2 separate regions of the Homo sapiens genome follow, and region 1 is linked to region 2. The links come from fine-mapping of genetic effects on gene expression. Tissue or cell type: whole blood. Region 2 holds a variant in brackets; the other region holds the start of a gene. All regions are shown on one strand. Distances are between the middles of the regions.

Region 1 (5,154 bases), 51 kb before region 2:
CACCAGATAGCTAGACCAGTGCTCCCCAAACTTCGGTGTGCACAAGAATCATAATTTTGAAGATTCTGATTCTCTGCATTGCTTCACCTCTTTTCTTGCCTTGTGCTTGCATCTCTACTATAGTGTAAGCACCTTTATCTCCTCCCTTTAGCTGATTCTCTGTGGCTTGCTACTAAAACTTGTGACTCATGGCGTGGTTCAAACTTCTGGAATCAATATTTACCTCCATTTTAGATTTCTCCTCACATACCGACCTTTAGCTCTGGTATATCTTCAAAGCTAGCCATTTCATGCATTTCCTCACCTGGCCCTCTCTATGGTGGACAGTAAGGCAGCAATACAGAGGTGGAAAGCTCCTCACATTAAGTAGCAGAATGTTGCTATTCAAAATGTCATCTGTGGACCAGCAGCTTTGGCATGACCTGGAAACTCGTTAAAATGTAGACTCTTCAGCACCACCTCACCCTGCTGAATCAGAATCTACCTTTTATCAAGATCCTTAGGTGATTTGAATGCTCATTAAAGTTTGAAAATCCCTGATTTAAGATGCTTTTGGCACAAGTAACAGAAAACCCAACTCAAACTGGCTTGCATGATACGTAGAATGACTTTCAGGTGATCTAATCCAGAGGCCCTTAGGTTTTCAGGGCTTTGCAACAAACTCTTTTTGCTTATCTGAGCTGTTTCCTGTAAGCCTACTCCCTCAACATAACTTCATTTTATGTTAACAATACAAAATATAGAATGTGTTCTAATAAGTGTTCAAACACAAACCTATTATTATAGTGCTCTTTGGCCTGTGCCCTAAATTTTGAAATGATCACTCCTTAAAATTGAAACCCTTGGTTGCAAGTAAAATAAAAGTCTGACTGAATATCATTTAAACAATAGGAAATTCAACATCTCTAATATCAGAAAGGGCAGAGGATGGCTCCAAAAATAATTTACCAAGGTTTCTCTTCTCTGCAGTTCTCTGGACTCTCCTGACTCCAATGACTCCATTTTCAGTGTGCTAGATGGCTGAAATTCCAGCAATCATATCTAGATCCCGAAATAGTTAAAGACTGAAAGGGACCATCTTTTCCCATGTCTCTTGTTTTAAGAATAGAGAAATCTGTCATAGCAGAGGTTTCCTTACAACTCAGTGGCCGGAATCGGGTATCATACTCTGACAGAGATCTCTAATTGCTTCTGAATATCTACTTTCCCCACCTTCTTCAGTAATACCGTCCTGATTTTTATCTGGGCACAGCAATGGCCAGGTATATTTCCTTGCCTCCCTTGAAAGCTACATTTGGCCATGTGACTAAATTCTGGTGAGTGAAACATACGTAGAAATGTTGTGTAGAACTTCCGGGAAGTATCCTTAAAAGAGAGGTAGCATCCTCTTTTTATTCCTCTTCTTCCATTCTGATTTCTGGAATGCAGACGTGAAGGCTGAAGCTTCTGCAGCCCTCTTTGATCATGAGGACAAGGGTACACTCAGGATCAGGTGGAGCAAAGAACTGGAAGGAGCCTGGGTCCCTGATAAATTCAGGAACCTGCCCTAAGAGCTTTATTCTGCCTACGTCCAGCTAGGTGACAGAATAAAACTTGTGTGTTTAATTTACTGTTAATCTGAGTTCTTATTAACTTCTGGAGAATCTAATCCTAACTGATACACATGCCTTCATATAGCACCCTCATGATTTTGGCCACATCTTTCTATCATTATCTTATTGTTTCTCACCTTCTTTACATTGGCTTTTTCACTTAATTTGAAGAGAATTTTTTATATCATCACTGCTTGACTATAAAATCAGTCCTGCCTGGCAAAAATAGAAGTTAACTGCAAAAATAAAAACAATGGAAATGTACTGACTTTAAAAAATTGGCCAACAGTGTTTCTGTATGACAAAGGCAACAAGCTTATTTGATATGAAATAGTTGCATTAGCTCCTTGGGGGCTCCAGTGGCCTTCCTTTTATTCACTGATAATATTAGCAGCTTCATTAGGCATTTATCTTAAATTTGCATGCACTTCCCGGGTGGGAGGACTTTCCTCTGTATATGGTGGTGAGTAATGGAGTTCTACCTGAAATCATCCATTACCTCAGTTGGAGAAACATGTCTCTAGGAGGGAAAAAAATTCAAGACTTTCTTTTACATTTGGTTGGAGTAGTTTTCAAACTTAGTAAGCCTAAGAATCACCCGAGGCTCTGGGTAAAATGCACGTTTCTGGTCTTGTCCAGGTGTAGAGATCAGGAGTCTGCATTGTAAAATAGTGCCCCAGATGACGTCAATACAAGTAGTTTTCAGACCTTAATTTCGGAAGCATGTGAAAAAGCATTCTTTATTACTGTATTCACTCATTCTTCAGTAATTGTCGAGCACCTTCCAGAGTGCTCTGTTAGACCCTGGTGGGAGGCAGAGGGTTTGCGTGGAGACTTAAGATTCAGTTTTCATGTCTCAAGGCATCAAATGAGATGTACTAGAGTTAAAAGGCAAAAAGGACGCTGTTTGTATCAAGCGCATTAACCCCTTTTAGCGTTTCTCTTACAATGGGATCACCTTCGTCATACGCTCCCAGTTGCTACTCATTACCTTAATAACACTAATAAAGCACCACCACCTCGAAGCTGGGGCGAATAGGCCCAAGAGACGGCCTACTTCTGTGGTGACCCTGAACTGCTCCAGAGGACCCAGCTCTCTCAAGCCAAGTGGTTTCCACACTTTGCTGCACAGTGGAGGCACTTGTAGAATAAAGAAAATAGGCCGACCCTCCAGGTTTGGAAGCCACTGGGCTAGCGGCCTCGCCAAGGCCCTGAAGCGCCCACGTCTTTGCGCCCTCTATCCTCAGCCCCGAAGGTGCGCGCGGAGGCCTCCCGCCCCGGCGGGCCTGGTCCTGGCGCCTGGTCCACCCCGCCCCACCGCTACCCGCCGTGCCCGGCTCCGGCTCCGGCTCAGGTGCGGGCCGCCGGCCGGGAGGAGCTGGTGCCGGAGCTTCTCAGGCCAGGGCGCTGCAGAACCGAAAGCAGCAGGGGGCGGGGGAGAGGAAAGAGGGGGCGGGAGCGGGGACGCGAGGGCGAGGCGGCCACGCGGGGCCGGGAATGCCCGCGGTGCGGGGCCCCAGAGCCGCCCGGTGGTCGTGTCCGGGCGATGGCTCTTCGCCTGGTCGCCGACTTCGACCTCGGGAAGGACGTGCTCCCGTGGTTGCGGGCGCAGCGGGCAGTGTCGGAGGCCAGCGGGGCCGGAAGCGGCGGCGCAGGTGCGGGAGGCGCGCTGCGGAGAGGGGTGGGGGCGGGGAGTGGGAGTCCCTCATACCCCCCGGACTCCGACCCGGTGGGGAGCAACCCGGGGCGTCGCCGCCCTGAGAAGGCTGGTGCGAGGGCGTCGCTCCCCTCCTCAGAGGGCTGTTTTGGCTTTGCCACCCACACCCAGCCACGGCGGAAGGTCTGGGGGCAGAGCCCGGGCCAGGTCGCCGTGGGGCCTGAGGCGCCTGGCTCGCTGCCGGCCCGCGGAAATTCGCCCTTGGCAGAGGGGCCGGGCCGCTGGCGGTTCCCTCAGCATCACCTCACGGCGAGGGCAGAGGGTCGTGCTCAGCTCAGCGGCCGCATCCCACCTCCCGGGGGGTTCATCGGCAGCGCAGGGGCTTTGCCAAGACAGGAGTGCTCCTGGAAGCTTCACGTTTTGAGAAAGAATCCGTGACCACCAAGCAAACCACCCTATACCTAACGGTGGAACAGTTTGTCCCCACATTTGCGAGACGTGTTTATGTGTCTGTTGAACCGTGTCCGTGGCTCAGGGGACATGGGCCTCGGCGGTGAGGCGCAAGAGGGCAGGGGCCGCCTCCAGGCTGCGCGCGGCGGGGCGAGAGCCCCCAGCCGCCCCCGAGCTCCGCACCTGTGCAGGCTGGGGCTGCGCGCGAGATGCTCGGCTCCCGGCCCTGCCACTCCGGGCTTTTTGATGATTTGGTAAGGGAGTGAAAGTGACTTTTGAGCCTTCCCAGCACTGATCTGTTTTAAAGAAGGGGAACTTTGTGATTTCTTACAAAGTTTTAAAAGTCTTCTATAAATATTGGAGCTTCAGAGCTTAAATGCAGCTTCAAAGCAATGATGCCTGTAGGTCTCACCTTGTGTGTAGGGCGCTGTCCACTTCAGTGAATTTGGAAGTGGGTATTAAATGACCCACATCTACAACTCCTTTCCCTTAAACGCTGGTGAAAGTTTTCTTGATGTGAGTTATATATCAAGTTGCTATCTTGTATCTTCACACTCTCCTATGACTATAGCGAAATTATTTGTAGGTTTCCTTGGCTTGGAATATTATTAGCTCCAAATAAGGAGTTATATGTTTGTGTAGCGTATGCATTGAGTTTGCATTAGTGTCATGCTTAGTAAGGCTTTACTTTTTTTCGAGGTGGAGAGGGTGGTCAAGGAAGAATTTTATACAAAAATTAGCTGGGCGTGGTGACACGCTCCTGTAATCCCAGCTACTCGGGAGGCTGAGGCAGGAGAATCGCTTGAACCTGGGAGGCAGAGGTTGCAGTGAGCCGAGATCTCGCCACTGCACTCCAGCCTGGGCAACAGAGTAAGTCTCCGTCTCAAAAAAAAAAAAAAAAAAAAAAAAAAAAAAAGTCGCCCACATGTCTGAAAAGTTTTTGAAGGCTTAACTTTTTGAAATACAACAGGCAGCTCTGTCTTCTACTACCAAGTACTCCTTTTTCTGGACTCCCACTTTATTTTGCTAAATGGCAGGTGTCTGCAAATGAGAAGTTAGATGAGTGTGAAATGCCACAGTCTTATGTTTCCGTAATGTGTGTCGTGCTTGAAAAGCTGTGTGTGACCCACTGGGACCTGGCTTCCTTGTATCTTTCGCTCATCTCTGAAGAAATATAAACTTGTGTATTGACCTTCCACTAAACAACAGATAGCTCTAGGTCCTCAGAAGGTACTTTCTGGAAATACTAGCTTTTCTGATACTGGTAGTATTTTGCTCTTTCAGAGCAAATATCTTGGTAAGATATTAGCCCTGTTATACTAAGAGAATTATCACCTCTGATAATCACCAGTGGGTGGTAGCTCAAAAATACCCCCACACAAATTAATTCCTGTTCTGTAATTTATAGCAGTGGCAGGGAAATCTGGGATTCTGTCTCATTTCTAGCACAGCAGT
Region 2 (5,154 bases):
CCCCAGCTTGTAAATAGCAGCAAGACTGTTATGGAATAACACCAGCTAACCTTTATAGCCAGATATAACTTCTTTGCAACTAACAATCTAACAATAATAATCTCTTTATACACAGTATCTTATTTAATTATCTCACAAGAACCCTATGAAATAAGTTCTATATTTTCTTTATTTACAGATGAGGAAACTGAGGCTTAGATAATTTAATTAACTTGCCTGAGGCAATAGACTTAGTAAGCCAAAAGCAGGACTCACATCCAAATCTGCTGATTTCAAAAGTGGTTCTCAATCTGGGTTCACGTTAGAATCATTTAGTGAGCTTTAAAAAATACAAATGCCTGAGTCTCACCCCCCAGAGATTCTGACTTAATTCTTCTGATGTGGAACCTGGGCATCTGTGATCCCAAGTAAGTTTAATGTGCTGTCAGGGTTAAGAACCAGTGCTCTAGAGCTGTGTTGTCCAGTATGGTAGCCAATAGCCACATGTGGCTATTTGAATTTACATTAATTAAAATGAAAGAAAAAAATCCAGGGCTGATTAGAAGCAGCTAATGTGAGCCACTCTCACAGGGAAGCGTAAGTGCCACTCTCACAGGGAAGGGGCGAGTAAATGCAGCGCCTTCAACTGAATCATCCAGATGTTCACATTGGGACTAATCCAGGAAACAACTTAACCCATGGAGAATGGCAAAAAGCAAGGCAGGATGACAGCCCACCTAGGAGTGACACAGAGCCAGGGGAACTTCCACCACCCAGGGAAGTGGTGAGTAAATGTACAACTCCAGGAACCCATGCTAGACTAAGAAGACGAGAGAAGATCCAAATAAACACAATTAGAAATGACAAATGGGATGTTACCACTGACCTCACAGAAATAAAAATAATCATCAGAAACTACTGAGAACACCTCTAAGTACACAAACTAGAAAACCTAGAAGAGACAGATAAATTCCTGGACACAAACAGCCTCCCAAGGCTGAACCAGGAAGAAATTGATTCCCTGAACAGACCAATAATAAGCTCCCAAATTGAATCAGTAATATATAACCTACCAACCGAAAAAAGCTCAGGATCTGATGGATTCACAACTGAATTCTACCAGACGTACAAAGAAAAGCTGGTACCATTCCTACTGAAACCCTTTCAAAAAATTGAGGAGGATGGACTCTTCCCCAGTTCATTCTATGAGGCCAGCATCATCCTGATACTGAAAACCTGTCAGAGACATAAGAACAAAAGAAAACTTCAGGCCAATATCCTTGATGAACGCTGATGCAAAAATCATCAAAATACATGGAAACCAAATCCAATAACATGTCAAAAAGCTAATCTACCACAGTCAAGTAGGTTTCATCCCTGGGAGGCAAGGTTGGCTCAACATATGCAATTCAATAAATGTGATTCATCACATAAACAGAATTAAAGACAAAAACCACATTTATCTCAATAGATGCAGAAAAGGCTTTCGATAAAACTCAATACCCCTTCATGTTAAAAACTCTGAATAAACTAGGTATTGAAGGAAAACCTCAAAATAATAGCCATCTATGACAAACCCATAGCCAACATCATACTGAATGGGCAAAAGCTGGTAGCATTTCCCTTGAAAACTGGCACAGGACAAGGATGTCCTCTCTCACCACTCCTATCCAACATGGTATTGGAAGTCATAGCTAGAGCAATCAGGCAAGAGAGCATCCCAAATAGGAAGAGAGGAAGTCAGGCTATCCCTGTTTGCATACGGCATGATTCTGTAGAAAACCCCATAGTCTCAGCCCAAAAGCTCCTTCAACTGATAAACAACTTCAGCAAACTTTCAGGATACAAAATCAATGTACAGAAATCTCTAGCATTTCTTTACACCAACAAGAGCAAAGTCAAGAGCCAAATCAGAAAGGCAATCCCATTCACAATTGCCACAGAAAGAATAAAATACCTAGGAATACAGCTAACCAGGGAGGGGAAGTTAAAGATGTCTACAATGAGAATTACAAAACACTGCTCAAAGAAATCAGAAGTTACAAAGAAATGGAAAAACATGCTCATGGATAGGAAGAATCAATATCATTAAAATGACCATACTGCCCAAAGCAGTGTACAGATTCAATGCTATTCCTATCAAACTATCAATATTCTTCACAGAACTAGAAAAAACTGTCTTAAAATTCATATGGAACCAAAAAAGCCTGAGTAGCCAAGGTACACCTAAGCAAAAAGAACAAAGCTGGAGATATCATGTTACCCAACTTCAAACTATACTACAGGGCTACAGTAACCAAAACAGTATGGTACTGTTACCAAAACAGGCACATAGACCAATAGAATGGAATAGCGAACCCAGAAATAAGGCTGCACACCTATGACTACCTGATCTTCAGCAAAGCTGACAAAAGCAATGGGGAAAAGACTCCCTACTCAATAAATGGTGTTGGGATAACTGGCTAGCCATATATAGAAATTGAAACTGGAACCCTTCCTTACAACATAGACAAAAATCAACTCAAGATGCATTAAAGACTTAAATGTAAAACCCAAAATTTATAAAAATTCTGAAAGAAAACGTAGGCAATACCATCCTAGTCATAGGAATGGGCAAATATTTCATAACAAAGACATCAAAAGTAATCACAAAAGAAGCAAAAATTGACAAATGGGATCGAATTAAACTTAAGAGCTTCTGCACAGCAAAAGAAACTAACAGAGTAAACCAAACGACCTACAGAATTGGGAGAAAATATTTGCAAACTATG[C/T]ATCTGACAAAGGCCTAGTATCCAGCATCTACAAGGTACTTAAATTTATAAGACAAAAACAACTCCATTAAAAAGTGGGCAAAGGACATGAACAGATACTTTACAAAAGAAGACATGTGGCCAGCAAGCATGTGAAAAACTCAGTATCACTGAGGATTAGAGAAATGCAGATAGAGGTTACAATGAGATACCATCTCATACCAGTCAGAATGGCTATTATTAAAAGTAAAAAAAAAAAAAAAAAAAAAAAACCCACAGTTGCTGGCAAGGTTGCAGAGAAAAGGGAAGACTTATACACTGTTGATGAGAGTGTAAGTTAGTTCTACCATTGTGGAAAGCAGTATGGTGATTACTCAAAGGCTAACAGCAGAACTACTATTGGACCCAGCAATCTGATTACTGGGTATATACTTAGAGGAATAAAAATCATTCTACCATAAAGATATACGTATGCAAATGTCAATTGCAGCGTGATTCATGTTAGCAAAGACATGGAATCAACCTAAATGCCCATCAGTGACAGATTGGATAAAGAAAATGTGGTACATACATACCGTGGAATACTGTGCAGCTATAAAAAAGAATGAGATCATGTCTTTTGTGGGAACATGGATGGAGATAGAGGCTATTATCCTTAGCAAACTAACGCAGGAACAGTAAAACGAAATACCTAGTGTTCTCACTTACAGGTAGGAGCTAAATGATGAGAACTCCTGAACACAAGGGAACAACAGACACTGGGGTCTTCTTGAGAGTGGAGGGTGGGAGGAGGGAGCGGAGCAGAAAAAGTAACTATTGAGTACCAGGCTTAATAGCTGGGTGATGAAATTATCTGTAAAAATAAACCCCTGTGATATGAGTTTACCTATATAACAAACCTTCACATGTACCCCTGAACTGAAAATAGAAGTTAAAAAAAATTCCTGTAGTCCCAGCTCTTTGGGAGGCCAAAGTAGGAAGATCACATGAGCCCAGGGAGTTCAAGACCACCCTGGGTAACATAGACTCCATCTCTTAAAAAAAATAAAATAATTAGCCAGGCACACATGTAGTCCTAGCTATTTGGAAGGCTGAAGTGGGAGGATTGTTTGAGCCTGGGAGGTTAAGGCTACAGTGAGCCATGTTTGCACCACTGCACTCCAGCCTGGGCAACAGAGTGAGACTTTGTCTCAGATAAATAGTGCTTCAGTCATATTATCCACATTTTGAGTGTTCAGTGACTACATGTGGCTAGTTGCCACCATATTGGACTATACAGGTATATAACATTTCCATTGTCAAAGACAGTTCTGTTGGATAGCTTCACAGAGCCTGTGTACATACCATTTCAACTTGCTGTGTCTTTTTTTCCCTTTGGGATTGGGTGGGGCAACTAAGCATGACCTAACAATTTGGAAATATTTGCTTATAAGTTCTGGATATGGTTCTTAGAATATGTAATTAGGTACATTTATTCTACATCTCATTTTATTTTATTATTACACTTTAAGTTTTAGGGTACATGTGCACAATGTGCAGGTTAGTTACATGTGTATAAATGTGCCATGCTGGTGTGCTGCACCCATTAACTTGTCATTTAGCATTAGGTATATCTCCTAATGCTATCCCTCCCCCCTCCCCCCACCCCACTACAGTCCCCAGAGTGTGATGTTCCCCTTCCTGTGTCCATGTGTTCTCATTGTTCAGTTTCCACCTATGAGTGAGAATATGCGGTGTTTGGTTTTTTGTTCTTGTGATAGTTTACTGAGAATGTACATCTTACTTTTTTTCAAAATGAGAAAAACTTTCATTCTCTAAAGGATGGAGTGCAGATAGTTTGCTAGAATGGAGGTTATGATCTATGTTGCCATCATGTTCATTTCCCAGGATAGAATCCTAAAAGAATTACTGGGTGAACAGGTATGAATATATTTAACCCTCTGTGAAAGAATTTTTCTGAGATATTGTGTTAGTTGACTCATTCACTACTATTTGAGAATTGTGTAAGAAGCACATGCTCCCTTGACAGTATTTCATTATCATTTAAAAAACTACTTCTAAAGGAAAATTATGGTACCTTGTTTTAATTTTTATTTATTACTAGAGAATCTAAAGTCTTTTTTTTAAGCAATTTCATGTTCCTTGTGATTATAGTATATAAAAGAATGGATAAACAAGTAGTTTTTTGCTGATAATGTTTACTGTATGAAAGCAGTCCAAGTGGTATATGAGACTTTTGTAACTCTTATAATTATTATTTTGTTTATACTTTAGTGATAGATTACTTTTATTCTCAGTGAGTCATGAGTCAGCTGTAATTGTAAAGAAAAGTTGTTATTGTGTGCTCAGTAACCGTAACAGTCATTTTACATCTAATAGAATTGTTACCATGTTATCTGATGAAGTTATTCTTTTTTGCTATTTT

What was found. PIP is the estimated chance that this variant, and not a neighbour inherited with it, causes the effect.
Region 1: it holds the start of GSAP, and the variant in region 2 is fine-mapped to the expression of GSAP in whole blood (TOPMed, PIP above 0.99).

The regions. Positions count from the first base shown.
Region 1 is chr7:77,414,306-77,419,459 of GRCh38, reverse strand. It overlaps GSAP (gamma-secretase activating protein), which reads left to right and starts at 3,111. Exons shown (of 31, transcript NM_017439.4): 1 at 3,111-3,247. The coding sequence starts at 3,139. It overlaps LOC101927243 (a long non-coding RNA gene), which reads right to left and starts at 4,262. Exons shown (of 5, transcript NR_110073.1): 1 at 4,112-4,262. RefSeq lists silencers at 2,816-3,165, 3,386-3,595, 3,656-3,945.
Region 2 is chr7:77,363,746-77,368,899 of GRCh38, reverse strand. The region is part of intron 12 of GSAP (gamma-secretase activating protein); the gene reads left to right. Among named protein-coding and RNA genes, the nearest start is that of GSAP, 50 kb to the left of the region's middle. The variant C/T (reference allele first, on the strand shown) is at 2,751.